3 linked regions of the Homo sapiens genome follow. The protein of the gene in region 2 purifies or fractionates together with the protein of the main gene of each other region. This does not show direct contact. Each region holds a gene or a part of one and is shown on either strand. Other genes may lie near its edges.

Evidence for each region. The genes of interacting proteins can lie anywhere in the genome.
Region 1: the proteins of ANGPTL7 (region 2) and EDEM3 purify together in Homo sapiens (affinity purification with mass spectrometry; 2 studies listed by BioGRID and IntAct, with this or other methods). This does not show direct contact.
Region 3: the proteins of ANGPTL7 (region 2) and EDEM2 purify together in Homo sapiens (affinity purification with mass spectrometry; 2 studies listed by BioGRID and IntAct, with this or other methods). This does not show direct contact.

Annotation. Positions count from the first base shown.
Region 1 is NC_000001.11:184,689,737-184,695,887, forward strand, and holds the end of EDEM3 (ER degradation-enhancing alpha-mannosidase-like protein 3 isoform 2 precursor), read right to left. Parts: intron 4,737-6,151; coding exon 4,327-4,736; 3' UTR 501-4,326; downstream 1-500. UniProt on the Homo sapiens protein: Involved in endoplasmic reticulum-associated degradation (ERAD). Accelerates the glycoprotein ERAD by proteasomes, by catalyzing mannose trimming from Man8GlcNAc2 to Man7GlcNAc2 in the N-glycans.
Region 2 is NC_000001.11:11,184,669-11,192,365, reverse strand, and holds the start of ANGPTL7 (angiopoietin-related protein 7 precursor), read right to left. Parts: upstream 3,012-7,697; 5' UTR 2,787-3,011; coding exon 2,411-2,786; intron 97-2,410; coding exon 1-96. UniProt on the Homo sapiens protein: Has a role in the formation and organization of the extracellular matrix.
Region 3 is NC_000020.11:35,137,337-35,144,365, forward strand, and holds part of EDEM2 (ER degradation-enhancing alpha-mannosidase-like protein 2 isoform 1 precursor), read right to left. Parts: intron 5,143-7,029; coding exon 5,037-5,142; intron 670-5,036; coding exon 544-669; intron 1-543. Other genes in the region: MMP24-AS1-EDEM2 (ER degradation-enhancing alpha-mannosidase-like protein 2), read right to left, coding at 544-669, 5,037-5,142. UniProt on the Homo sapiens protein: Involved in the endoplasmic reticulum-associated degradation (ERAD) pathway that targets misfolded glycoproteins for degradation in an N-glycan-dependent manner.

The DNA of each region.
Region 1 (6,151 bases), about 170 Mb from region 2:
TTCTTGAGGAGGAGATGCGATTATAGGTGTGCACCACTATGCCCCACCTCGTGTGTATTTTTCATGTTCTCTTCTTTCGCTGACCTAAACTACTTATTTTTAAAAGCATAATGCTTATTTTGGAAACTTATGAAAATACTGACATATACAAATAAGGAAATAGCAATTGCCTACAATCCAAGATAACCACTGTTAGTATTTTGGCTATTTAACTCACTCCATGATTTCCACCACTCTCTATCCCCTCACCATAATTTTTTCTTCATAAACTCATTGTCCTTTTTACTTACTACTTTATTTTCTATCTTCTTTACCACATTTTGTCCATCTGTCCACTACAACCCCAGGTCCTATAATAGTGCCTGGCATACAGAAGGCATGCACGCCCTTAATCTTTGTTGAATAAATGAGTCAATGTCATTATATATATGTGTGTGTATATATATATAATGTGTATGTATATATGTGTATGGAGAGAGTGAGCAAGCGCTGGATCATAATTTATACACAATTCTAGAGTTTTATTCACTTAGCATTACCTTTGTGCATGCTACTGACTTGTTGAAAAACTTTCAGTGATTTCTTAGAACAAAATCCTTACTTTAGCCCACAAGCTTGGGTTTCTACAGCCTAAAATGTCCCCAGAATTCAATCCCCGGAGGATAAAATGAGTTTAAAAAAAAAAGGAAAACAGAGTGATAAACATCAAGACATAAAAGTATGAGGATATGCACAGTGATTCTAAAAATTCAAATTAAAACTAAACTGGAATATTTACATATTTTATTAAATCTTTACAATCAGTAATTATAATCAAATACATAATTATATACAGGATTATATACATTTTGCCCAGACTTTTACATCACAGTACATAGTTTCCCTTAGAAATATTGTATACATTTATCACCAAACAATAAAATCCAACAACAGTAGTGTTACAGCACCTGTTAGTACAGACATCTTTTTCATAAATTACATCATAAGAAAATATACGGCTGTAAATTGGGCTTTTAAAAATGTCTTTTATAAAATCTGAACATACAATATTTCATTCACAGAATGTTTTTTTTTTCTATGTTCTGACTGAAGCCTTGTGCATAAAACGACCGGCTGGAATATTTACTAAATTCTACCCCCCTCTAAAATTATAAGCAGTATTTGAATTACTTATGCTGAGCTTTCTTCATGATGAATTTGGCATGGGGTTTGGTGAGAGAACAAATGTTGGCTTTACTATAAAAAAGGTTGTGTGATGGTAATTTAAATTTTAAAAGCTTCTTGAGAGAGTAATTACATTAGTGAAGTTAAAATCAGAAAGTGTACAATTTTTCTTTTTACTAATACTGTAAAGAAAAAGGGAGACGTATAATGCCAAGAGTTAATTTGTTCTGAAACAATTATACTCTTTTTGGAAGCCTATTGCAATTTAAGAAGAAAAAAGAAAACTTGCCTAACAAAATATCCCATACCAAACATATCTAGTAAATTACAATTCTTTCACACTTAAAACTTTATGGGAAAAGTATTGCAAATAAGGGCATATCATTTCAATGAACTTTTATATGCAGAAAAAAACTAGCTATTTTATTTTTAGTAGGTAAACAGGTTAAGTTTTAAAACTTGAAAATACCTGAATTAAATACTTGCTCTAATATCTCTTAAAGGATTTCAGCTAAAATCCTTGATTCCAGATTTGTAAACATTATATAAATCTTTCTTAAACAATTTTATGGCTGTGGTGATCACTTCAGCTATATTTCTAAGCAGTCAACATTTAACTGAGGTAGACCAGATGTTTCTAAATTCGGGGTTTCATAGAATCCCCTGAATCTTTAGCAAGTTACTAAAATGTCTATAAAAGTTAACTAAAAAACAAAACACTAAAAAAAAAAAAAACAACTAATGCCTTTGGAATTTTTAATGAACTCAAAAACTACTTTGTGGCAGTATGTCAAGTAAGTAAATGAATGTAGAGTTGTAATTACAACGTTGGAGTTTTTTAGACGAACATTATCTCCTCTTTTCTTAACTAGGGAAATATTGAGTATAATTCCTTCTGGGTATTAAGAAAAATTGGTTAAATTTTTTCCTTTTCTTTTTTTAAGGATTTACTTTTCTTAACAAGTGAACAATTTGCTTCTAAGCGTCAATGAAAGGCAACACCTCCCTCTAATGGCCAAAGGAAGAGAGTGGCAGTAAGCTGGCTTTTCCAATGTGTCACACAATCCTTCATGCCATTAAGTTCTCCTTGTTGGAAAAGAAATTAGGTTGTTTTGATAACTTAGAAAAGTTAGTTTTAGACAACAGTGACTTTCAGCTACAAATACAAAATCAAATCCATGTATATAAGGCTTCTGTAATCGATGTCTTAGAGGAACATCTGCTCATTTTCTCCAAGCCCCAGTCCTATAAATCAAGGCAAGTCAAGTAATTAAGCTTCAACTATTTTGGCAGCTTTGCAATTAAAATGAACAAAGCACTATATCTATCCTTCCATATACTGTATATATTATAGTTCTATCTTGTTACACCAAATCTCACATGCAGAGAGACTAAAAATATCCATTTTGGTTTCAGGTATAATTAAAAGCCAATAAGGGTCTTGCATACTATTCTTTTTCCCCTCCCCAAAGTGAATTCTCCATCAGATTTACTACTCCCTGACTCAATTATATTTACCTGGAATATCTGAATGCAGGTATTTATCCTCTCAGAAAAGAATATGTTTACCTGGGATCTAAACATACTGTACACGAATATACATAACTGCAATACAGCACTGCTGTTTTTAACAGCTCCACTTACACCTCATCAGTACCTCACAACCGTGTTTTAGGAAAAAGTTTTGTGTAATGTTATGGTAAAGAGAAGAAAATTATGTCTCTTAAATATTCCTTTAGAACAAATTCAGGCAAGTTTAAAAAATAAATAAAATGAATAAAGCCATGATTTCAACAACAGGGCTGTCTACAAACATCAACAACAAAATTTAAAAATTTTTAAGACTTAAATGTGGCCAGCACCAGACTACTACAACAACAACAAACCAAAAAAAAAAAGGGGGGGGGTGGAAGTCTCATTAAGCTATATAGCTATATGTAGTTGTATTGTACTTTTTTTTTTAAACACAGGTCACCATACACTAATTTTCAAGTCCGTATCAGAAGGAATATCTGTTAAAAACAAAAACAAAAACCATGATTCAACAGAAAATGTGACAGATTCCTTAGGTGCAACTTTAGAAACCTAAGTTTCAAAGGAGAAAAACAGTAGTTACTCCAGGAATTTTAACTCACTAACCACAGTTCTATCATGGCTCTGTAAGACAGAAAAATGGAACAAAATGTATATAGCTGTTGGCGATACGAGCCTTGTGGCTCAAATTGCATACCAAACATGGGATGGAGTAAGGCTGATGGCTAGAGGTAATCACCTCTAAGAGAAATGAACTGGAAATGATTTATAATCTACCCTACAAGGATATAATGCTAGGTTCCATTTCAGAGTAGTCACAGCTTTCCCTATGGAAGGCCCAATGGGAGGTTCATATTGCAACATTACAGTTTCTCCCTTACTCCATTTTTCAGAAGTATTAAGTAAGCAATCTCCACAATGTATTATATGACCTTTTTACCTGGTCCCACTGATTAGTCTTTATGCAGAGAACTCACTGAGAAAGTACACTGGCTTCACCTTTGGTTTAAATAAAAAAGACATTGTTAAGAAGGAAAAAAAATCAAGTCATCTTGATCATTTGTCACTAAATGAAACAAGAGAAAGCAATGAGCAAAGACTGTTTTCACCATAAATGCATTTGCTTCATAACCACTTAGGTCACTTAGAGTGTTTTGTGAAGGCAGCATAATCAGAATGCCACAATACTCGGATGCATCTTCCCAAAAGAGCCTCTAACCCCCAAAACCAAGAAAGGCGAGCTTCCTTTAATTAGAAGGCTATCCAAACTCCTATTCCCCACTCCACTACTAAATGAATTTTGTTTCTTGTCTATCCAGAGACAACAGAAATCTGGTTCGCAGGAATGCTCAGTAATCTTTCCCTGGCCTGAGGTGTTGCAGGGTGGTGCAGTGCTGCATTTGAAGGGGGAACTGTGGATTTCCATTTTTGATGGGACAGTTTTAAACAAGGTCAATTCTAACACAGCATGCTCCAGATTCCTACGATAACTACGCCAGTCAGAACGTGGTTGTTCATCACCATACTTAAAGCCTCCCATTAGAAAGCCTGCTTAGTATTAGGATGTCTATTAACCACACACAGTTTACCTTTTCTTTTTAAATACCTACCAACAGATTGTTTAGCAAGTCATAGCTCATCCTTCTCCATCATTTCAAATGCTTCTATATCTTCATTCCAGTCTGCTAATATGGAGTCTATAGGCTGGACCTTTTTACCCCAGCTAACATTAGGATTGGAATCTTCCTCAGTTTCTGATTGTTCTTGAAGCTGGTTATCTAAATCTGTACATTCACCATTAAGATTTGTAGTCTCATGGTTTTCTGTGGGATTAGAAGTCTGTTCAGAAGGGGAAATGCTTGCAGCATTGTCCATATCTGCTAGAGATAATGATTCTGGGTGAGAATTTAGAGAATTTTCCTCAGAAGACTCTTGATCAACCAAATCAACCTCCTGAGAACTTGATGAAATCTGTTCACCACTCTGATTCTGAGAATCATTTTCAGAGGATGGTTGTTCTTCATTTTCCATTTCAGGATCTGTATGAGAAAGAAACAAACCTCATGCTACTTCTCTAAAAAAATGTACTATTACACTTTCCAAAGCATATTGGTTTTTGCAACAAGATGAAATAAAACGTGAAAGAGACTCATGTTAATGCAGAAAGGTGAGCATCAGCACTGAAATGAAGACTGTCTTTATGCAGTCACATTTTCCTATAGATTCACTGTGCAAAATGTGTCAGTGTTAGAAAATAAACGTTCTTCCAAATTGGAAGGAATGACAATAACTAAGACTGACATCAGTGGACATTAGTAAGCCAAGAAGTACGCTAACCAATAATAATATTAAAATATATAGAGATTTGCAATGTATGGCTAAAATGTATTAGATACCTAAAGCTTATGCATAAGAACATATTAAACAGAATCAATTTTAAACAGCATATATCATTGCTATATTTTCAAATAATATTCCTTTGAAAAGTGAAATTCCTACTCAGTAAGTCATAAAGAAGCAGATAACATAGATTTTTTTGAATGACTAAGGGTATTAATGTGACTGATCAGAAATACTTTCACAAGACAAGAACTGAGATTATTCATAAAATTCTATTATTTTAGGCCTATGAATTATAAGATATAGTCATTTTAAAATCCACTGGAAGGCTGAAGAGTGAGTTAAACCTCTTATAATGAATATACAGTGAAACCAGTAGAGGCATTTTATTTAGGGTTCCTACAAGAAAGTGCTTAAATAGCATCGACGCCTACATGCTACATCCTGTTCAGTCTCTGCCTCTGTGATGCAGTTGGCCAGCAAATATCCTCCAAGTCATCATTTGCATAGTGCTAGGGATAAAATGAGGAGCAATACCAAATGCTATACCTGCCCTTATGGGTCTTATAGTCCAACGGGAGAAAAAGATATTATACAAATAATCACGGAAAATAAATAGAAAACTCAACTGTGACACGTTATGAAAGAGAGATAAGGATTTTGGATGCTCAAGTCCCTTATGTAAAATGACACAGTATTTGCATATAACTGACACACATCCTCCCATGTACTTTAAATCATCTCTTGATTACTTTATAATACCTAATACAACGTAAATGTTATGCAAATCATTGGTATACTGTATTGTTTGGAGAATAATGACAAGAAAAAAAATCTCTGTATGTTCAATACAGATGCTTTTTTCTTCTTGAATATTTCCTATCCACAGTTGGTTGAATCCATGGGTGCAGAACCCACAGATACAGAGGGAGAACTGTAAGGAGATTTGAGAAGTTTCTTCAAAAAGTTCCTTCAGAAAGTGACACTTGAGCTGGGGTTTAAAGTATAAGATAATGTCAAAGAAGGGAGGGAAGAGGATTTATTTAAAAACCAGAAAAAACAAAGGAAATGTAGACATGCAGGAAGGTGTGGTGGGTATTGCTGGGGCACAGAA
Region 2 (7,697 bases):
GTTCAGGGCTGCCCAGGAAGTCATCAGGAGGAAGCTTATACACTCCAGAGATGCGGTAGTTCTTCTGGTAGAGGGAAGAGCAGTCGTAGATGGCATCTACAAGAGAACAAACCACAGGGTGAGCATTTAGACCCAGTGGCTCCATCTGAGTTGAGTGTTTAGAGACTGAGCCTTTATTTCTACCCTGGGATTCTCAGTGGTGTTAATTACCCATCAGTGTCTGCATTTGGGAGAGGTGGATATGGGGAGATCCAGAGGGGGTGTATTTTGGCTTTACTAGCGGTGGAGCAGAGGGGTAGGGAAGCCCTTCACCTGGATAGCATTAGTGGGACGTTCCAACAGGTGGTTTCAGGTTAACTCTGAAATAAATTATTCTGCTATAGCTGGGCCATGAATTCTAGAAATGTTACAGTGTATGAGGGCCACGTAACAGATACTCCTGTCAGATAGATTCAGACTTCTTAGACAGCCGCCACTATAACAAATCAGTCGTGAATATCTCATAGAGTCTGGTTTTGTTGATGTTTCCTGGTTGGTTGTTTTTGTTGTTGTTCAGAGATGGTGGCTACTGCCACCTGAGACCATAATTAAGGGAGATAGATTTTATTATCACATATTTTCCCCTTCCATCCAGCTAGCACCTCAAAACACTCAGAAGAACCTTTGAGGCCTTCCTCCCAGAAGTTTTGTTAAAACAATGAAATGAGAGCATCAGACTGGCCAGTTTTTTTACTCTAGGGCCATGGAGCTGCTACTTTATGCAGGATTTAAGCTCTGTATTCTAAATATCAAAGAGCATAGTGGAAGAGACAGCCTTTTCTGATAGGATTCAGAGACTGCGGCCCTTACTATCCAAGAGAAGCTTCCTGCCTGCTATGTCTCGGGGTGCTTTTCTTGGTGACCACTGCACTGGGACCTTAGAGAGGAGCACCAAGATGGCAGATGGGAGTTGTCTGAGGCACATAGGTTCTCTTGCAGAGCACCTTGGGAAAGGGAGGTAGAGTACGTGTGCCTTCGCCATCACTATTCTTCATTTCGTCTTAGTGGTGAAAGCACCAACTTACTGCTTCCTCTAAGGGACTACCTACTTATAGAATATAAGGGTAACTGAGCACTTGGTCATAGAGAAGAAAAATAAGGAATGATGTCCTGGGCAAGAAGAGCAAGAGACCTGGTGGGAGAGCTGCACTTGACCCCAAGAACCTCCTTGCAGGATGGTGAGAAAGCCTCCTGTTTGGATGAGCAGGAAGTGGCACGGTCAGATTCCTCTGTCTGGCCTGGTCTTCCGCATGTCTGGTTTCATCTCACAGACCAAATCAGGACTCACTTGTCTGGAAAATGGCCTGAGAATACCTTTCTAATCCCAAACTGAGGGCCCGGAAGTCCATGCTTAGAAAGTGATTGATACATGTTGGTTCAGGTAACAGAATTTTCAAGCTTGGTTTCATGTTAAAACTTTTTCTTAATTTGAGCTGAGGTTAACCATTGACTTAGTCAGTAGAAGCTGATCATGTCTTTGTTCTTCATGTAGTTTATAATGGGACCAATGGTTTTTATATCAGCAAGAAATGACATGTCTATAGGATATGCTCCTTACAACTAATATTTTCCTGATAATTTCAGAAAACCAAATTTTTATCTCTAAACCGTAAATTCATGTTGGCCCACCTGAGCTGAGCTAACCAGAAATAAAAGTTATTTTGCAAAAGAAAGATTAAATTTATCTTATTTTTGGCCTATTAAGTCTATATTTCAGCATTGCATTTAAAAAATCCTGTATTCGGAGAAATTCATTTAAGACCATGGAAAAAAATAGACGTATCACAATTGAGGAACCTTAAGGAGCCGCATCCTTCCTGAACACAAAGGGACTCTTCACATGGTTATGTGTCTCTACACTTAACTCTGAGCCAATGAGAAGAGTTACGTTTACAGAGAGAGGACACAAAATTCCATTAATGCTCATTCCTGGTAAATCTTAGGAACACCAGAGAACTGTTTCTGGCAAAACTTTGCTTCCAGAGGAACAGCTGTTACAGTTTGGTGCTTCCTTGGAATTTCTTGAGATATAGCCTGTCAGCTCTTGGTGAGGAAGTAGCAGAGCTACACCAATCAGGAAGACTTGAACCCTGCTTCTAAGACTTGCTGGGTGACTTTGGGCAAACCATGTAGTATCTCAGCACTCCAAGATGGTAGGCTGAAACACTGTGTGGATAAAAGAGACCCGTGAAGGTGTTAGGTAAACTTACATAGCATTAGAAGTCAAAGGAAATACTGCATAAGCCTTTACTAAAGGGAAAGTGTACCCACAAAAGAGGCCCCAGTAGTGGTTCTGATGACCAGGATATGTAGAAGCAGTGCTGTAGATGGGGAGGCACTCCACGCTCCCTCAGGGGACTGGTCTCCTTACCTGCGGAGGTCTGAGTGACCGTCTGTGCTGCCTGCAGCTGCATGATGTCAATTTGGTTGTTCATCTCGGAGTACTTGCTCTCAGCATCTGTGAGCCGCGACTCCATGCGCTTGCTGTTGCTCTCCAGCTCCATCACCTGCATGACCACGCTGACCCAGTCCCTCTCCTGCTTCTTGTTCAGTTCACTCAGCAGGCTGCTAAGGTTGGCAACTTGGGCCTTGAGCTCCTTCACCTCCTCACAGCAGTTGGCCGCTTTGAGCTGTGGCTGTGCTGGTGTCTTGTGCTTAGAGAGCTTCTGCAGCCACGCTGGGTGGCTGACAAAGGCCACGATGAAAATGCAGAGCCAGGTCACAGCTGAGAGAGGCTTTTTCAGCATCTTTTGTGGGTTTGGGTGAGGAAGGCTCTTCCTTCAGGGGAGTCTGGAGATGCCCAGCTGAGGTCTGCAAAGCTGCAGCAGGCTGACTGAACCTTACGCTTTCACTCTGAGGGCCTCGCCACTTTGTTGTTTTCTCTCTTTCCTTGCTCTTTGCTAGCCTTTCTCAAAGCTTGAGTCTCTGACAGGGGAGCTGAATGGGTAGCCTATAGCTTTCCTTCCAAGCCCGAATGCTCCACAAGTCAGCATCTTAAATATTGTTTGCTGCCTGTACCTCCACCCCTACCATGGCTGCACCAGGCTTTAGCCCCTCCCAGCTCATCTGGGAGGGTCAGGTGCCTGTTGGGTGAAGTCAGCGGCAACTTAGGCCAGAGGAGGGGAGGAGGGAGATGGGGCGAGTCTTTCTTTCCTTGCCTGTACAGTCTCTGGGCTAAGACAAGAGGACTGTGAATTTGTGTGTTTCCAGTTTCGCCTATTAGATTATGCCCCTGCCAGCCACTGGCTCAACTCTATCAGCAAGCAGGACAGGGTCAGAAGAATTTCCAAATTCCGTTCAAAAGGTTATATAACCATGGGGTGAGCGTAAGGTAGGCGAAAGAGACGCTACTCACCCAGGGAGGCCTGTTAATGTAATCCATGCTGTTTATATGAGGATCTGGTATATTTTGACATCCTGCTGAATATGCTTTTATCTAGGCTGATTATTCCCATCTCTGATCATTATTTAGTATTTTATAAAATCCTTACTCAACCTGGATCTAACACTATCTCACATTTGAAATCTTCCAACTTAGAAAAGTTCTAGAAATAGAAGAATAGAGTAAATCTCTTAGGAAGCCAAAAAAAGACTTTGTAGCCACAGGGTTTGGACAGTTGTCTTTTTACATGCTTTCTCCTTCAACAAAGAGAGGGCCAGTATTAGCATATAACACTTGATATTTTGCAAGGAGGTGTCAGAAGATTACAACAGAGATGAAAACTCAGCAGTGCCAAGCATGTCTGGGATTGGTCACCCATGCTTCTGTCAGTTTCTAGGCAGGACAGAGAACAGGCCCATCCTTAGCCCGTGGTTCAAAACTTGGAAAATATATTAAAATATAGAGAAAAGAATCCCTGTCACCTAATAAATCCATATCTAGAGTCTCATTTCCCTCTTTCTTTGCTGGTATGGTTTGCAATTTGAAATTATTCCTCCTCTATTTGTATATGACTTTGTATCTAAAAAACATGAATATTGTAATTTTTCATGTACTATATATGAAGGACAATGCTCTTTTGAAAAGAAATGTGAAAAACATGGAGTTTCAGCAAACATCCTTAAAATAAGCTTTTCACTAAGAATCTATACAAAGGTTCCTCTGTCCTTAAAACAGTAACTCTGTCTTTGGAACATACGATTGCTGTTTCCATGTTATGGAGCCACTCAGGCAGTTACTTGTACTGTTGTAGTCAGCGTGGGTCCTTCCCACATAAGCCTGATGCCTGACAGCTCTCCTCCCATGCCATAATCCCCCAGAGCTCTTTTCCAGTCAGGGCTTCTAGCTCCTCAGAAAGTAATTTCTGTTCAGGCAGCTGGAGTTACTGAACAATTTTTTTTTTTCTCAGAATCAAAAAGCAGTGGAGGATCAGGTGGATCAGAGTTTGTTTTCTCACATACCCAGCCTCCTTTGCCTGCTAAAGGGTGAGGATGTTACTGATACCCTTATAGCAACTTGGCATTCTAATCAAAAGATTCTGTTGAGAATTGGCACTGTCTGCCAGTCTGCTCTCTTTTTGCAAATGTCTAGCCCAGCTGGGCACCACAGCCTTAGCTCCATAGCATTCATTTTAGTAACGAGACTCTGGCCCCAAATATTGGCATCCTACAAGGTCTGCTAAAAATAGGGATTTTCAAGTGGATCTCCTGGCCATCAAATGACACTGAGCTTAAACCACATGCCACAGAAGTGCTATGTACCATACAGTCATGTATAGCAGGGGTCCCTAATCCCCAGGCTGCAGACCTGTACTTGTCCATGGCCTGTTAGGAATAGGGCCATACAGCAGGAGGTGAGTGGCAGGTGAGTGAGCATTACCGCCTGAGCTCTGCCTCCTGTCAGATCGGTGGCAGCATTAGATCCTCACAGGAGTGTGAACCCTGTTGTGAACTGCACATGTGAGGGATCTAGGTTGCGTGCTCCTTGTGAGAATCTAAGTACTGCCTGAAGATCTGAGGTGGAACAGTTTTACCTCAAAACCATCCCCCATCTCCCCACCCCCACCCTGGTCCATAGAAAAATTGTCTTCCACGAAACCAGTCCCTAGTGCCAAAAAGATTGGGGACCACTGATGTATAGCATCCCACGTGACCCTGCTGCCTTGGAACTCTCATGTAACAGTGCAGCAGAGAAAGCACAAAAGAACAGTGGAACTTTGTGGAGTTCTAGCCAGCTTTTGTTTATTCTTCCCAGTAGCTCACCCAAACAGGAAAGTGTTATGAATTGATTCTTATATGTGGGCAGAAAATAAATTAATCATTCATATTTGTACCCCATGTAACAGTCCCTTTTAGGAAAGGTAGGAGGAGGTTCGTAAGTTTGTATTGGAAGCATCTAGCCTTTAGCATGAGTGTCTGGTCTTTGACATTTATTTTCTGGAAACTTATTTCTAACATAAGGCAATACTTGAAGACAGAAGACAGAAGCTCTTGAATTGCATAAGCTACCCAAATGTCAATACTCACCCCCCCTCCAGTTTTGAGGAAAAATAGCTAATTAAGGATATTTCTCATGCCAGAAGATTATCTATTTTCTAAAACATCCACAACCTTATGATGTCCTAGATTCTGAATATCTAAATGAAGGAAAAAGAAGTCCTTGTTTTGAGCACAGCTAAGCCAGTAGAGAAAACCATGAAGGATGTGGAGGACTAAAATGGTATTGCCTTCTCTGAAAGAGGCTTTTAAATCCTTCTTCTGCCTTTCAGTGAGCAGAGTGACCTTAAAAATGGGAATTAACTGACAAAATCTGGAAAACCTAGGTTGGATACTGTTTAGATTTTCCTTTTCTCCATTTTGCTGGTGTTGAAAGAGGGCTAGCTTGGTGCTCCTGGAAAAGGTGTTTATGAAAATTAAGCTTTTGTTCTTAATGAAAAAAGTCAGTGAGGTTGTACTCAACCTGGAGGTTCTCAAAAGACTTCACAGTGTTTGGGCCGCACTGCCTTGGGCTGGCACCAAGGTAGTCTGAGGGTCACAGGGCAGGGGAGCACCTAGGGGTGGTCTCTCCTTCTATCCAGAGAGGAGCATCAGATCCCATTTGCTTGAAAATGCCCCGTTGGAGAGACTGCTGCCCACTCTCAGCTTGTGGAATGAATACATCTCAGAAGAAGCTGCCTTGCTGTTAGTTTTAATTGTGTATCTCAAAGGAATATTTCACTTCTTCTGAAGTCTTTGAAAAAACCACAGCCTGCCATACTCTATACAGCCGTTGAATATCTGCCTTTTTTTTTTTTTTTTTTTTTTTGAGACGGAGTCTTGCTCTGTCGTCCAGGCTGGAGTGCAGTGGCACGATCTTGGCTCACTGGAAGCTCTGCCTCCCGGGTTCACGCCAATTCTCCTGCCTCAGCCTCCCAAGTAGCTGGGACTACAGGCACCTGCCACCATGCCCAGCTAATTTTTTGTATTTTTTAGTACAGGCAGGGTTTCACCATGTTAGCCAGGATGGTCTCGATCTCCTGATCTGTTGATCCACCCGCCTCGGCCTCCCAAAGTGCTGGGATTACAGGTGTGAGTCATCATGCCCGGCCACATATCTGCCTTTCTAGCACTCCATCCCATTCCTGTCTCAACTGAAAGTCCAAGTCCATCACAGAAGATATTTCCATCTTTTCCCTGAGCTTTCTAATTTGCCACTTCTATCAAAGAATGTGTCCTGAACCTATTAGAAGTCTTTTCTCTCAGGCCTTCTCTTAGAGTCCTGTTTTGTTTTGTTCTGTTTTGTTTTGTGACAGGGTTTCACTCTGTTCAGGCTAGAGTGCAATGGGGCAACCATGGCTCATTGCAGCCTCAACCTCCCAGTCTCAAGTGATCCATCCACCTCAGCCTCCCGAGTAGCTAGGACTGCAGGTATGCACCACCACACCCAACTATCTTTTTTTCTTTCTTTCTTTCTTTCTTTTCTTTTTTTTTTTTTGTAGTGATGGGGGTCTCACTGTGTTGCCAGGGCTGGTCTCGAACTCCTGGGCTCAAGTGATCCTCCAGCCTCAGCCTCTCAAAGTGCTAGGATTACAGGCATGAGCCACCACACCTGGCCAGAGTCAGTTTTAAATTATGGAATATAGTAAAAAAAAAAAAAAAGTCTCTCTGATTTCTGTCAGGACTTTATAGCTCTGTTAGCCTCCACTCAAGTTGCACAATCCAGCGATTATTCTGGCCCAGTGTCTGGCAGTCTAGTTAGACAGCTGAACTCTTGGACAGTGTGACATGCTAGGATGGGAGACACAGAGGACAAGGAGGGCCTTCTAGAGAAGTGATACCTAGGTTTTAAAGAAAAAGGAGGAAATAGCCAGGAATGGGAGAGGATGTTGTAAGCAAAGGTGCAGCTATGTGAAAGACTTGGACTAGTGGGAGAATGTAAGTAGTCGAGTGTGGCCTAAGAGTCAAAGGGAAGAAGAATGGCAGCAGAAGCTAAAGCTGGAGAGGTGGAGGGGGGCCGTGCCCGGGGAGCCCAGGTGAGGAGCGGGACTGATCCTCTGTAGACATGGGAAGGAATCCTAGAGGTTTTTCCCTCTTGTTCCATTGTTTTCCTGAGTTCCACCAGGAAAGTGGCCTTGGTAATTGCCAAACAATTTTTTTTTATTTTTTATTTTTTTTAGAGACATAGTCTCATTCTGTTACCCACCCTGGAGTGCTGTAGTGCAATCATATAGCTTACTGAA
Region 3 (7,029 bases), on a different chromosome or scaffold from region 2:
TGAACCCAGGAGGCGGTGGTTACAGTGACTTGAGATTGTGCCACTGCACTCCAGCCTGGGCGACAGAACAAGACTCCATCACAAACAAACAAACAACAAACTATGAAGAGAAAGAGTGGCTTGGTCACGATGTTGGCTGGCAGAGCTGAGTCTAGAATCCAGGGCTGCTAATGCTCACACCAACACCCTTCCCTGGGCCCCTGTTACTCCAGCAGTGTGTGGAATAACTGTAGTACCTGGAAGGGGACAAATGGGCTCATTCAAAATAAGGGTAATGGCCTTCCACCCACCAGGCTGGCCACCTTCAACCATCCCCTGCAAACAATAATGAGGTCAACTCATCCATCCGGGTCAGGGCCCCAGCAGGCCCTTAAAATGCCCAGGACACTCCTGATTTCCATGGTGGGTGCCTGGTGGGTAGAAAGACCAAATACACCTGGTGAGAAATACCAGGAATTAATTCAGCACTGCCACTCTCATCTTCAGCAAGGGAAGCAGGACCTACTGGACTTCGTCTCTGCCCCATCTCTGTGTGGGTCTTACCTGGGAGGAGTTTTCGGGCCGCCTCCTCAGCCATTCTCAGGAGAGGCCCGGAACAGGGCCATCCAGCCTCTACTTCCACCCCAGCCTTCTTGGAGAGCAGATGAGCAGACAGGAGTCCTCCTACCACTACAGATGGCACAGAAAGCAAATGGCACAGTCCAAAGGGAAAGACCAAGGGATCAAGGATCTTTCCCCTGTGCGAGTTAAACATAAACACTCTATTGTGGGGCGCATGTTCTCAGGACCTCCTGAAGCTATTTCACGGGTAAAAACAAACAAACAAAAACCTCACTCTGTTGGGGTGGCTCACTGGGAAGGAGCTAGAGCCACCCAGCGAAAAAAGAGTCCCTTAATCCCACATATTTCTATGGTGTTAAGTTTATGGGGTTTTCTTCTCTTGGTTCATCACAGGAACAGTGGCTATTTTTTGTAAGTCCCTATTGTGTACCAAGCACTAAGTACTACTGTCCCCTCTTCGTATGAAGATACTGAGGTTCCATGAGATAAAGTGACTTGCCCCAGGTCACCCATCTAGTAGGTGGTAGGGCTGAGTATCTTTGATTCCAAAGCCCATGCTCATTCCATTTGTCACTCTGTCTGTCTCCCAGTCACCTGTCATACCTGGGGGGAAGGGGTAATGATGGTTATTACCTTTATTTTACTAATTTATCTATTTCAACTTATTATGCAATATGTAGAACTTTTTTTTTTTTTTTTTGAGACGGAGTCTCGCTCTGTCACCTAGGCTGGAGTGCAGTGGCGCGATTTCGGCTCACTGCAAGCTCCGCCTCCCAGGTTCACGCCGTTCTCCTGCCTCAGCCTCCCGAGTAGCTGGGACTACAGGAGCTCACCACCATGCCCGGCTAATTTTTTTGGATTTTTTTTTTGTAGACACGGTGTTTCACTGTGCTAGCCAGGATGGTCTCGATCTCCTGACCTCATGATCCACCTGCCTCAGCCTCCCAAAGTGCTGGATTTACAGGCATGAGCCACCGCACCCGGCCTACTTAGAACTTTTAAAAAGACACAAAGGTTCTTGGAAATACAGCTAAATAGATATCCTGAGTGGCCCTCTCAATGAAAATAACTGGTGACCCTAAGTTTCAAAATTCCCCTCCTCCCTGCAGAGGGGGAATAGGAGACCAAGGTCAGACCTGCCCCAAGTGGAAGTCTGATAAAAGGTCCCTATGCAGGCCAGGCATGGTGGCTCACATCTGTAATCCCAGCACTTTGGGAGCCGAGGTGGAGATCACGAGGTCAGGAGATGGAGACCATCCCGGCTAAAATGGTGAAACCCTGTCTCTACTAAAAATACAAAATATTAGCTGGGCGTGGTGGCAAGCGCCTGCAGTCCCAGCTACTTGGGAAGCTGAGGCAGAAGAATGGCTTAAACCCAGGAGGTGGAGGTTGCAGTGAGCCAAGATTGCACCACTGCACTTCAGCCTGGGTGACAGAGTGAGACTCCGTCTCAAAAAAAAAAAAAAAAAGTCTGGGCACGGTGGCTCATGCCTGTAATCCCAGCACTTTGGGAGGCTGAGGCAGGTGGACTGCCTGAGCTCAGGAGTTCGTGACCAGCCTGGTAAACACGGTGAAACCCTGTCTCTATTAAAAATACAAAAAATTAGCCGGGCATGGCGTTGTGCGCCTGTAGTCCCAGCTACTCGGGAGGCTGAGGCAGGAGAATTGCTTGAACCCAGGAGGCGGAGGTTGCAGTGAGCTGAGATCATGACACTGCACTCCAGCCTGGGCGACAGAGCGAGACTCCATCTCAGAAAAAAAAAAAAAAAGAAAAGAAAGAAAGAAAAGAAATCTACATGTATGTACCTTATGGTAAAACTGCAGAACACCAAAGGGAAAAATGATCTCGAATGCAGCCAGAATCCATGTAATAATAATTATTAATGCTGGGTGATGGGCACGTCTGGTTCATTATGCTATTTTCTCTACTTTTATGTTTGAAGTTTTCCATAACAAAAAGTTTTTAAAAGGAGAAGACAGCCAAAGTGAAAACCAAAACAAGATTCTCTACAAATAAATAATAATTACATTGACAGATTACTTCTTAACAATAATGAAACCAGAAGATAATGGAAAAAGTTTTTAACACAATAAGAGAAAGTAACCATCAACCTAGAACCATACACCCAGCAAAAATATCACTCAAAGGCCAACCAAAGGCAGTTGAATAAAGACATTTTCATATAAACAAAAGCTGGGAATGTTTATGAAGCACACACCTGCATTAAAGGAAATTCTAAAGGAAATACTTTAGAGAAAAGGTCTGAGACACGAAAAGAAAAAATAGTCAAAAAAGTGGTAAATAGGCCAGGCACAGTGGCTAAACCTGTAATTCCAGCACTTTGGGAAGCCAAAGCAGGTGGATCACTCAAGATCATGAGTTTGAGACCAGCCTGGCCAATGTGGTGAAACACCATCTCTACTAAAAATACAAAAATTAGCCTGGTGTGGTGGTGCACAACTGTAATCCCAGCTACTCTGGAGGCTGAGGCAGGAGAATCGTTTAAACCCAGGAGGTGGAGGTGAGCCAAGATCGCGCCACTGCACTCCAGCCTGGGTGGCAGAGTGAGACTCTATTTCAAACCAACAACAACAAAAAAAGTGGTAAATTTATGTGTAAATGCAAAACTTCAACAATATAGAACAAAAATTATAATGTATGGAAGGTTTAAAACAAATAACTAAAATATATAACTGTAGCATATAGGTCAGGATGTTCTCTAAGTCAGGTTTTGCATTATTCAGGAGGAGAACAAAGATTTTCATTAAATTTAGACTTTGATAAGTTATGTTTGTTAAATTTGCTTGGAAAACTATGTAAAAAGCTAGATATTGTGCATAATTTCCATATTAGTAAGAGGAAAATGGAATGGGGGGAAAACAATCTAAAGAAGGCATGAAAAAGGACAGAATAAAGGAACATAAAGAAGATGGCACAGGGCCAGGTGCAGTGGCTCACACCTATAATCCCAGCACTTTGGGAGGCTGATGGGGGGCGGATCACCTGAGGTCAGGAGTTCGAGACTAGCCTGGCCAACATGGTGAAACCCCATCTCTACTAAAAATACAAAAATTAGCAGGGCACGGTGGCAGGCACCTGCAATCCCAGCTACATAGGAGGCTGAGACAGGAGAATCGCCTGAACCCGGGAGGCAGAGGTTGCAGTAAGCCAAGATTGCACCACTACACTCCCGCCTGGGCGACAGAGTGAGACTCCGCCTCAAAAAAAAAAAAAAAAAAAAAAAAAAGAAGACGGCACAGAGAGCACAATACTGTAGAAATGAGTGCAAATATATCAGTAATTACAGTAAATGTAAATGGATTAAATGTGCCAGTTAAAGATTGTCAGAATGGATAAACAAAATATAATACACTATTTGCAAAAGATGTATCTAATCATAAAACTACAGAAAGATGGAAAGGATAGAAAAAGATACATGGGAAAATGTCAACCAAAAGAAAGCTGGTATCACTTATATTCCTATCAGAAATAAAGGTATAAGAATGACCTTCATTTACAGATGACAAACTGGGCTCAGAAGCTGGGAGACATAGCAGCAAGTACAGCCTCAAACTCAGGCCGGATTCCTAAACCAGGATTTTAGACCATGTTGTCCCTCTGCTCTCTTCTCTTTTTTAATCTTTTATGGATCATATGTCTGGAATATAAGTTTCATTGCAGAAAACATACAAAATAATGGGGAAAAATAGAACTCTGCCATCCAGAGGTGACAGCTGTTAAGTGGTCTAGAGGTTCGATGCAAATAAGGGCTGTGCTGGCTTCACAAGAATCACTGGAAGTCTGCTAAAAATACTGATTCTAGGACCCAACACAGAGATTCCAATTCATTAGGTTTAGGGTGGAGTCTCAACATCTGAATTTTTTAACCACTTGGGAGTGGTTCCTATGGGCTGCCAAGTTTGGAAGATTAATGCTGTAGATTTGCACTGTCCAATACAATAATCACTAACTACATGTGACTACTTAAATTTAATATCATTAAAATTAAATGAAATTAAAAATTCAATTCCATAGTTGTAGTAGATACATTTCAAATGCTCAATAGCTCATGTGGTTCGTGGCTACCATACTGGACAAAACACAGCTATAAGACATTTCCATCACTGCAGAAAATTGGATTGGACAGACAATAAGTTCCAAGAAGGCAAGGATCATATCTTTCTTGTTCATAGCTGTATGCCTAGTATCAAATACATATTAAAGAGGTGAGTAATCTGGTGTATTTCTTTCCAGTCTCTTAGTCTCCTGCTCACTTTCATATCTGAAACTGATGGGGAAATCCTGAGACTTCCCCACCTCACCCTCCAGGAGGGAAGAAGAGCTCTGTCGGTCAGAGGTTTTGGCCAAGGGTCCTGGCATGGTCAGTCCTTAAAATCCTATTTACCACTTCTTGGTTTACAGAGGCAACTTCACACTCTTTTTTCTTTTAAAGGTCCTAGAGAGCAGCCCTTACCTCGAATGTTTGTTTCAAACACAGAGGCGTTCACATCAATATCAAAGTCCACGCTGTCCTGGAGCACTTCAACCACTCTTTGGAATTCTGAGACATTCCCCAAAATCTGGAAATAAAAAAGAGACCTGACAATGAGGCTCTTACATGCATGGAGGCAGATTCAGAGTCTGGGATCCTATGTTGATGTGGCCCTCACTAATTCCACTTAAGACCTCCAGTTTCTGTCCTAGGATTGGTGACAGCAGAAGAAAACACTGAGAGCTAGAAATCATCTAGAGACTTCATACCAAGAGACTGGTTAAGTAAATTCCTAGGTCCCAATTAAGAGTCACGATGTTGTCATTTAAATGGACACAATATAAAGAACGCAAACTACGCATAGAAGTCTTAGGTTTTTTGTTTCGTTTTTTTGAGACAGAGTCTCGCTCTGCTGCCCAGGGTAGAGTGCAGTGGCGTGATCTTGGCTCACTTCAAACTCCGCCTCCTGGGTTCAAGCGATTCTCCTGCCTCAGCCCCGAGTAGCTGGGATTATGCACCACCATGCCCGGCTAATTTTTGTATTTTTAGTAGAGACGGGGTTTCACCATGTTGATCAGGCTGGTCTCAAACTCCTGACCTCATGATCCACCCGCCTTGGCCTCCCAAAGTGCTGGGATTACAGGTGTGAGCGACCGCACCTGGCCAAAAGTCTTAGTTTGACATTTGCAGTAGATACCAGTTGTCACCTTCAACCTTGTGGAAAACAGAACAGGTTGGTTGGCCCAAAACAAATTCATTCCTACCCTCTTTACCTCATGGCCTCCCACCAGAGGTTGGAAATCCAGAAGCTTTCTCGGCCTCCTTTGCTGCTGCAGTTGATTGTGTTACCCAGTCAATTCTGACCCTTGAGAGGTCTACTGGGGGCACTTCTGGGAAGGCTTCTGTTTTCTTAATACCAAGGGACAAACACAGCTAACATGGCTTTTAGTCTCTCTCTTTCTGCCTTGAACTCAGACTCGATTTCTGAAGTGATGGCAGCTATGTGAGACCATGACGTACTAAGCATTAGAATAAAAGCCAAAACACTAACGATACTAGAATGCAAAGCTACAAAGAGGCTGGTCTCTAATGACACAGTTGCGTAGCTGACCCAATGCTAGAAATTACCTCTAGACTTTCTTTTACTTGAGAAAATAAACCCTCTTTATTTAAACCGTTAGCCAAATGCAATCTCAATCTCTCTTCTTTTGATAGTAACATCTCAATTTACCCTCGAGGAATCACTCTTCCCCGGCAGTCACTCCTGTGGTTTGGGAGAGGCTGATCCCATCCCTCTAGCTGTGGAGTGGGTACTTGACCTGAACCAGTCCAAGTCTTTTTTTTGAGACAGGGTCTTGCTCTGTTACACAGGTTGGAGTGCAGTGGTGTGATCATAGCTCATCACAGCCTCGAACTCTGGGACTTGAGCAATGTTGGCCTCCCAAAGTGCTGGGATTACAGGCATGAGCCACCACACCTGGCCCTTTTTACCTTTCTAAGCATCAGGTTTCTTTTATATCTTTTTTTTGTTTGTGTGAGACAGGGTTTTACTCTGTTACCCAGACCAGAGTGCAGTGGTGCGATCTCGGCTCACTGCAACCTCTGCCTCCCTGACTCAAACAATCCTCCTACCTCACCCTCCTCCCTAACAAATGGAGCCACAGACATGTGCCATCATGCCTAATTTTTTATATTTTTGGTAGAGACGGGGTTTCACCATATTGCCCAGGCTGGTCTTGAACTCCTGTGCTCAAGCAGTCCTGCCGCCTTGGCCTCCCAAAGTGCTGGGATTACAGGCGTGAGCCACTGTGCCCATCCCTAAGCATCAGGTTTCTTAACGATAAGAAGGAGTAAAGGTACTAACCTCAAGAAGTTGTTAGAAGAATTAATACATGTCTGTACTAAGCCCTACAGAAACATACTAACTAGTCACTGATATTATTTCTTTATAATTTTTTTTGAGATGAAGTTTCAC